2 linked regions of the Homo sapiens genome follow. The protein of the gene in region 1 binds, or shares a complex with, the protein of each later gene. Each region holds a gene or a part of one and is shown on either strand. Other genes may lie near its edges.

The links. The genes of interacting proteins can lie anywhere in the genome.
Region 2: the proteins of GPR161 (region 1) and GNAS are in contact, whole or in part, in a cryo-EM structure (PDB 8SMV), measured with the Homo sapiens proteins. Residues at the interface, in NP_001254539.1 of Homo sapiens: Arg125, Ala128, Val129, Leu130, Pro132, Met133, Met137, Ile211, Val214, Ala215, Lys218, Ala219, Lys267, Ala268, Thr271, Ile272, Trp327; in NP_000507.1 of Homo sapiens: His41, Lys216, Val217, Phe219, Phe376, Cys379, Arg380, Asp381, Ile383, Gln384, Arg385, His387, Leu388, Tyr391, Glu392, Leu393, Leu394.

Annotation. Positions count from the first base shown.
Region 1 is NC_000001.11:168,084,594-168,088,777, forward strand, and holds part of GPR161 (G-protein coupled receptor 161), read right to left. Parts: intron 3,112-4,184; coding exon 2,992-3,111; intron 1,204-2,991; coding exon 938-1,203; 3' UTR 1-937. UniProt on the Homo sapiens protein: Key negative regulator of Shh signaling, which promotes the processing of GLI3 into GLI3R during neural tube development.
Region 2 is NC_000020.11:58,901,421-58,904,920, forward strand, and holds part of GNAS (protein GNAS), read left to right. Parts: intron 1-2,107; coding exon of another isoform or gene 2,108-2,110; coding exon 2,111-2,165; intron 2,166-2,251; coding exon 2,252-2,371; intron 2,372-3,500. UniProt on the Homo sapiens protein: Guanine nucleotide-binding proteins (G proteins) function as transducers in numerous signaling pathways controlled by G protein-coupled receptors (GPCRs).

The DNA.
Region 1 (4,184 bases):
AACTGAGGCCAGCTATTTTCATTGGTCACTCAAACATCACACATAGAATCTATTTAATGAGGCTTTCCCATGTGAACAAATTCCCTTCCATAATAACAGTTTCTCTATTTCCTGGCTGTGCTTGGCACTACAGTCCCATTCAGTCCGGTAAAACAGTGGTACGTCTTAAATGGATTTTTTTTTTAATTCTGGAAATGAAACACCTAGTACCTGCCCTTCCTCTTGTCTTTTATAGTGGTTTCTCCCTTTTGAAATACCAAAGAACTTGTCAGTAGGGAAGTAGGCAGGGTGGGCCAGTCTGCAAGAGGCCTGTGGCTGTCCCTATTAGCACCAGCAGGTGGCGCCACTGAGGACCGCTCCGAAGCGCTCTGCTCCTGGGTGCTTTCTCTGCGGACCAGTCCTAGAACTGAGGGTCCCACACTGCCCGCATCAACCATGTAGAGGCACCAGGACGGTCGCGTGTCATTAGGAAGAAGTGCTGTGTCATCCTTCACAGTACACTGGGGAGGGTTCTCCTCCTGAGGCATCTGGCACAGTGCACGGCTGGACTCCCAGCACACTGTGAAGAGGAGGAAATGATGCATGTGGGGGTCTCCTTCCAAGCCCTTCGTCTCTGGTCCTCCCATGCCCCACCTCCCAAAAAGCCACAGCCACATCTCTAGATTTTTTTTTGGTTTTTTTTTTGCTTTAGATGCTTCTGGTCCCATCACTGGGACCTAAAAGAAGCTCACATGTGGTCTCTGGAAATGCTGAAGCTGTGGACTGTAGACATTATTTTCAGTCCTTGTCCTGGTGGCTGCATACCAGATGCTGCTCCTTCCCTGTGTGTGGCCAGCTGTACACAGTGACATGCTCCCAAGGCCGCGGCACAGGCGGTGATGGGAACTCCTCCCCGGGCCAGCCTCTCAGGCTGCAGCCCCACGGCACCCTGAGGCCCTCATCTCTGCTCGGCAGCTAAAACATCTCCTTCTTCGATGCTCTGCAACTGCAGCCTCTGGCTCACAAGAGTTCTGCTGCCTCGGCGGCCCCCGAAGCCGCCCCCCGGGACAGTCCGTGCTGTAACCAAGACCCCTGGCAAAGCCTCCTCCCCAAATAAGTTGATTTTGGCTTCGGCCTCAATGGCTTTGGCCAAGCTTGCTGCGTAACTGTCCAAGGACTTGTGTACTTCAGCTTTCACATGAAGAATCGAGTTCTTGGCAGCTTCTGAGGGAGAAGGCAGAAAAAAAAGTCAGCTGAGGAGCCAGGCCTGGGGACTACCTTGGGGACAAGCCTGCTGCTGCTCCACCACCCCGGGGAGGGAGACAAACCGCAGTTAAGGGCGTGGGTTTCAAAGTTCCATTCCTAGACCAAAAGCTGACTCCCTGACTTCCTACCTGGGAAATCTTGGAAAAAGTATCTAATCTAGCCTCAGTTTCCTCATCTGTAAAGAGAAGATATTAAGATACCTCTTACTCCAAGAAGTTACTGTGATAACTAAAGGAGATAATTCTTTCTAAGATGTTTGGCCTATGTCTGGCCCATAGAAAAGACTTGATAAATACTTTCTACTAATGCTAATCAACATTTTTACATCTTTGAAAGAGTATTCTGGTCTTTGAGCTCCCTGAAGCAGTGTAACAAAACTTCCACAAACCCTAATGTCATCTCTCTCCTCTCCATATTTGCTCAGAGATTCCCCATGCAGAACCTCAAGGTTGGACGTGACATTACAGGTTCAAGCCCCCTCCCAGGATTAGGAGCCCTAAACTAAAACGAACAGAAGTGAGAGGGGGGAGCCCTTCAATTTCACACCCTGTTCCCTGTTATTATTAACTCATTGCCTATTTTCTCTGGACATTTCAGGGGAACAATTTATCCTCTCCTCCTTACATTTTCTGGAAAGTAGGCAACCTGTACCCCACTCTCCAAGAGGGAAAGACTGGAGGGACCTCCAGCCACTCTCTGCCCTGCCACTCACTCATGGCAGGGGAGGACCCCCTGGCAGTGCCTTGCTCTTGCACCACCTGGAGGGTGCCTTTGGAGCTGCCACACTCACAAAGCAGGACTGATGGGGCAAGTGTGGCCCTACGTGGGCTGGGGGGTTGGGGAGCATTTAGTTCATTTTTTCCTATAGAAAGGCAATATATTATAAAGCCCATGAGGCTGCTGGCCCAAGCTCTGTTCTATAATCTGCTTTGCCAGTGAAGCGAATGAACTGTTTTCCACCTCTGACCTCTGTAACAACCTCTCCATTCATTCTGAACTCAGGGAGGGGTGTGGAGAAGAGATGTGATTAATTATGAACCTAAAACTCTGACAGAGGCCATATTTATTTCCATATTCAACATTTCTGAAGAGCCTCCTTACATCGGACAGCCCCTGGACTCCACCAAATCCACAGCCCAGTCATATTGGTATCTGGATGGCTCTTGTCACTCTCCTAATCAGCATGTCTGGATGGGAAACGAATTCCAAGTTCCAGAGTAAACAACAGTCCCTGGGGGTGAGCGGGGAAGATATAGAGTAGAAAAATGTAGGGATTGGGCTGCGGCAGAACTCATTCTCCTCACAGGACCCAAGGGCCATCACCGCTGTAGGAGCGACGGACAAGCAAGATGGCAGCTTTGGCCTCCAGCAAAGCAGATACACTCATTGGGCCATTATCTCATTTTCCACAGGAGGAAACTGAGGCTCAGGGAAAGCAGGTTCAGTTATAACCATACCTCACCCAGGATCTGGGCTGTGTGTGTAAACACGTGTGGGTGTGTGTGTGTGTGTGTGTGTGTGGAGTTTGACAGCCATTGTTTGCCCAGCCTTCGATGCTGCTTGCTCTGAGAACTGGGTGCCTAAGGACTCAGGTGAGACCAACAGGGCTGGGAGTAACCAGGGAGTGAGCAAAGGGATGGAGCCCTGATATATTCCGGGATGGGAGCCAGCCTGAGCCAAGGAATTGTCCTAAGATCCTTTCCGTTTCCCTATGTTTTCTTGAAGCAATCAGTCACAGAAGCCAACCTTTGATTTGTTCCACTTCATCCTCAAATGTCACCGAGCTCCTTCTCTTGGGTGGGCAAGTGCAGTGAGAGGGAGGGTTGTCATCAGACGTGTAGTCCTCAAGCAGCATCATATCTGTCCCTAAAACAACGGGCAGATTGTGCATATGTAACTACAATCTAAAGTCCTCCTGGCCTCTTCTCCCCTCTCAACACCCCTTCCACCCCTCTTCTCCCGTTCATCCAAACCCATCATCAAGTGGAGCTGACTGCGCCGCAGCACGTGCCCAAGAAACACCCGCCTGTCATCCTGTTTCAGGGAGTTTGCAGACAGCCGGTGGGGCTGCGTCAGCCACACAAAAAATGCAGCCAAGTTATCTGAAGTAGGGGGTTATCTGCCTCAATGACCAGACCCCAGAAGCATGGCATCTGCCGGCCCAGCATGGAAGGGAAGTGGGGAGAAGGGCCGAGTAGAGGAGAGGGTCCTACTAAAAGGAACTTTATATTCTGAGTGATTCTTCCTACAGTCTGAATTTCTATCACCACAGTTAAAATATGTTGTACTAAATAAACATGTAAAGCTCCAAAATGTAGAGTTCTTTGGGGATCAAAAAATAATTGACAAATTTTCCCCTAAAAAGCAGGGAAATAAAGGGAGAAGGTCAGGGAAGTCCTACTAGAGATAGGTGGGCAGAGCAGGCAGAGGGAATGGGGCAGAGGGAAGGGAGGGAAGGAAGAGCTGAGATGGGACCCATCACTCAACAGTGCCCTTCCCCAACACTAGGACCAGTGTCAGATCCAGCCCCGTTCTTAGCTTCCAGCTTTCAATCCATAAAGGCCTTGAAGCTCAGAAAATAAGGAAGAAAGAGAAACCTGGAGCTCTTTAGATGCTGTTTCAGAGCACCTCGCAGAGGTGTGATTACCCGACATAGAGAAGAAACAGTCCTTTGGGAGGTAGAATATGGTGGTTAAACACACAGGCTTGGGTCGGACAGACCTAGGATCACTGGCAGGTTATTTAATGCCTCAGTATCTTTCCACGTCTGTAAACCTGGGGTCATCATTCAGTCTACCTCACGGAGTTGTGGGGATTTTGAGTTGAGACATGTAAACATCTAGCATAGTGCTTGCACACAGCAGGGGCTAAATTGAGGGCCATCATTCCTGATAAGGACACAGCGAACAAAGGGCAGGGCTGAGACTCACACCAGATCT
Region 2 (3,500 bases), on another chromosome or scaffold:
GCCAGAATCAGATTTCAGATTTGTACACAAGGCCTGAAGCTCGCTCACCTCCCTGTCATCTGTGTTTCTGAGATTCTCCGGACCTGCAGCACTTTTACTTAAATGGCCCTGAGGGGATTCCTGGCAACATCTGTCCCCCCTCCCCACCCCAGACACCCCCCACCACTAATGAGCGTGGCCCCTCTGAACTTCCCCAGCTCTTCACCCAATGTAGAAGAGCAGTGGTGCAGTGACCTGTGAAAGGGGCTTCACGTAGGAAGGGGGCGAGATGGGATCCTTCAGCAGGTGAAGGCCCAGAAGTACACAGACATTTATTCAGAAAGAATAAATTTGTAAGTATAATTCTTTGAGAAAGGAAAGACCAAATGATTTGTGGAAGGCCTGTCGACAGGCCCGCACTTGACCCCACCGTCCGTCCCCGCCCCCCACCCCTGCTGCTCCACTGACTGCCCTGCCCTGCTCGTCTGCTCGTCTGCTCTTGCTAATTAACCTCCCTTCGCCTTTCCTCTGCCTTAACTGTCGTGTTCTAGTCTGGAGAGATTATATGTTTTAATTTCTACTCCAGTCTATGAATTGGTGAATCAGCCAAGTGAATGCTTCAAAAACTGGGACTCTCAAAAGATTAAAAAATATATATATACAAACCGTGAAAAAGATAAACTCTGTCCCCTCCATCTCCCATTGGTTTCTGCCTCGGTGACTCCCCCCCTCTTGGCCTCAGTTTCCCTGTCAGAGAGGCAGGACCGTAGCACCTTTTTTCCGCATGACAACGCCCTCACCTCCCAGGGCCTAACAGGTACAGCAGGTGTGCTGTGTGTGCTGGTTCCATTTTTGGGCTATAGACCTGATGAGATACATACTCCACACAAGAGGCCTTTTCTTGCCCTCTAAAAACATAAACTCGAGAACCTTCCCTGGCTGTGCTTCTAATGAAGGCTAGTTTCTGAAAAACATACAGCATTTGGATCAGTGTAATGTGGTACAAAAATTAACATTCTGTTATGGTCCCCAGAAGCCAAAGGGTGTGTCCTTTACCTGTGGGACCAGTGACCCTGAATATAGATCATTCCATAAAGACCACGCAGGCCATCCCATGTGGCTGAGTTAAACTCAAGGAAAAGCTACAAAACCTTCAACCTCTACTTACCAGAGGGATCTGACCTCCCCTCCCCCTTAGATTATAAGGCCTTCTAGGGGGTGGAATCTTATTTGATTCCTATTGCACATGGACCAACATGCACTAACATCATGAACTAGAAGTTTCATTGCTGCTAGCTGCAGTGCCTGGAGCATCGCACATACGACTTTTTTTTTTTTTTTTTTTTTTTTTTTTGACAGAGTCTCACTCTCGCCCTGGCTGGAGTGCAGTGGTGCCATCTCAGCTTACTGCAACCTCCGCCTCCCGGGTTCAAGCAATTCTCCTGCCTCAGCCTCCCTAGTAGCTGGGATTACAGGTGCATGCCACCATGCCCAGCTAGTTTTTTTGTGTGTTTTTAGTAGAGACGGGGTTTCACCATGTTGGCCAGACTGGTCTCCAACTCCTGACCTCAGGCAGTCTGCCCGCCTCAGCCTCCCAAAGTGCTGGGATTACAGGTGTGAGCCACCGCACCCGGGCTCCTGTAATGAACTATTATAAACACCACCACCTGTGCTCACTGGTTCTCTCAGTATGCTAGCAACTGAGTTAATTCCAAGTCAAACCATGGGACTGTTTTGTTCCACCCCAACCTCATAGTGACCTATCACTCCAGCCTCACCCCTACCCAGATGTTGATAGGACCAGGAGAAGCCTTTAGGAAGTGTTAGTATGTAGTGTGGGGGCTTCAAACCCATGAAAGATTAAATGAGCTGCATGCAACTTCTGGTACAGTCATGATTGCTAAGGCAATTTGCTAATCTGCCCCGATTGGGCGTGTCCTCAGGGCACATTTGGGAGGTTATAATTTGCAACTATGTTTATTCAGCTACCTCCAATCTTTGCACAGATCCGAACCCACAACTCCCTGAAGAACAGAATACTATGCTTTTTAGTCGGGATGTCTTTATGAAAGCAGTACTCCTAACTGACATGGTGCAATATGATTTTCTTTTCTTTTCAATCCCACTGCAGTGAGAAGGCAACCAAAGTGCAGGACATCAAAAACAACCTGAAAGAGGCGATTGAAGTACGTGCTGGCTCCTTGTGCTGTCTGTCTTGTAGCGCCCTCCCAGCCAGTGCTGTTCCCTGACCGCTTTGCTAAATCATTTTCAGACCATTGTGGCCGCCATGAGCAACCTGGTGCCCCCCGTGGAGCTGGCCAACCCCGAGAACCAGTTCAGAGTGGACTACATCCTGAGTGTGATGAACGTGCCTGACTTTGACTTCCCTCCCGTAAGCTACACCCCGACTTGTGTGGCCTTAGCCCCGCCCACCTGAGCACAGTGTCCATATAGGAACATGAGTGACAGCCCTGCACATGGGCAGGAGCATCCAAACCACACTTCAGGCAAAACTACATTTCAGTGATGTCCATCCTTAGGAAAAAGTTAATTTCATGTGTAACCTTAATTTAATAATAATAATCATTAGGGCTTTGTTCAAGATGGATGAGCAAAATTCTGTCACCCCTTCTACATCTTAGCTCACCTGTCCTCACAAATAAACATCACTCTTGAATACTACAATCTCACTTTATTAGATTGTAAATTTTTATGAGGAAAAAGGTCCTGAGCTATGGCAGGCTTAATTATTCCCTCATTCACATCTTAGGACAAAACTGTATGTTAAATATGGCACACAAATACTAATTGTCCATTTACTCCACTGGAAGTGCCCTAAGGTACCTTGGGATGCCTCAGTGAAGTGCCAAATGGAAGACATTCTCATTTTAAACAGGTGACCTTTTTATTAAGAGTTTTCTAAAGTCCTTGGGGCAAATGAAATCTTTTCTCATTATTAAAAAAAATGAAATATATCTAAATCATAACTCAAAAATCATAAAATAGAACATATGGAAAAGACTTTCCTCTGGATGCACGACACTGTTGGCTCCCTAAAGAACTACTTTTAGGGAACAAAAAACTGTTCAAGCCCAAGCATATAAGTTTAGGCCCCTTCGTGGGGAGAATGGCTTATAAGCGGGGAACGGGAAACGAGATGGAAAGATGTATGCGTTTGTAAGACCCACAGGGAAGAGACTTGTCTACAGCTAAAACAATGAGTTATTGTTGCCTTTTGTCAGGCTTTCGTGGGAATTTGTGTTTGTATATTTTAGATGGACTTGGCTGCAAACTTAAATTGGAGAAATTTAGTGGTATATAGTTAGTATGGATAGCTAAACTTTTTAAATAGCATTATTTTGAAAAAAAAGCAATAAACACAATATGTATAATATAACCCACTGACTTTCTTGAAATATGATTCTATATTTAATAGGAAAAGGAAACAGCAGCCTATTAAAAATGTATCAGAACAATAACTTTTTATTAGTCCTACTAACATCTGAACTTTTATGTTCCTA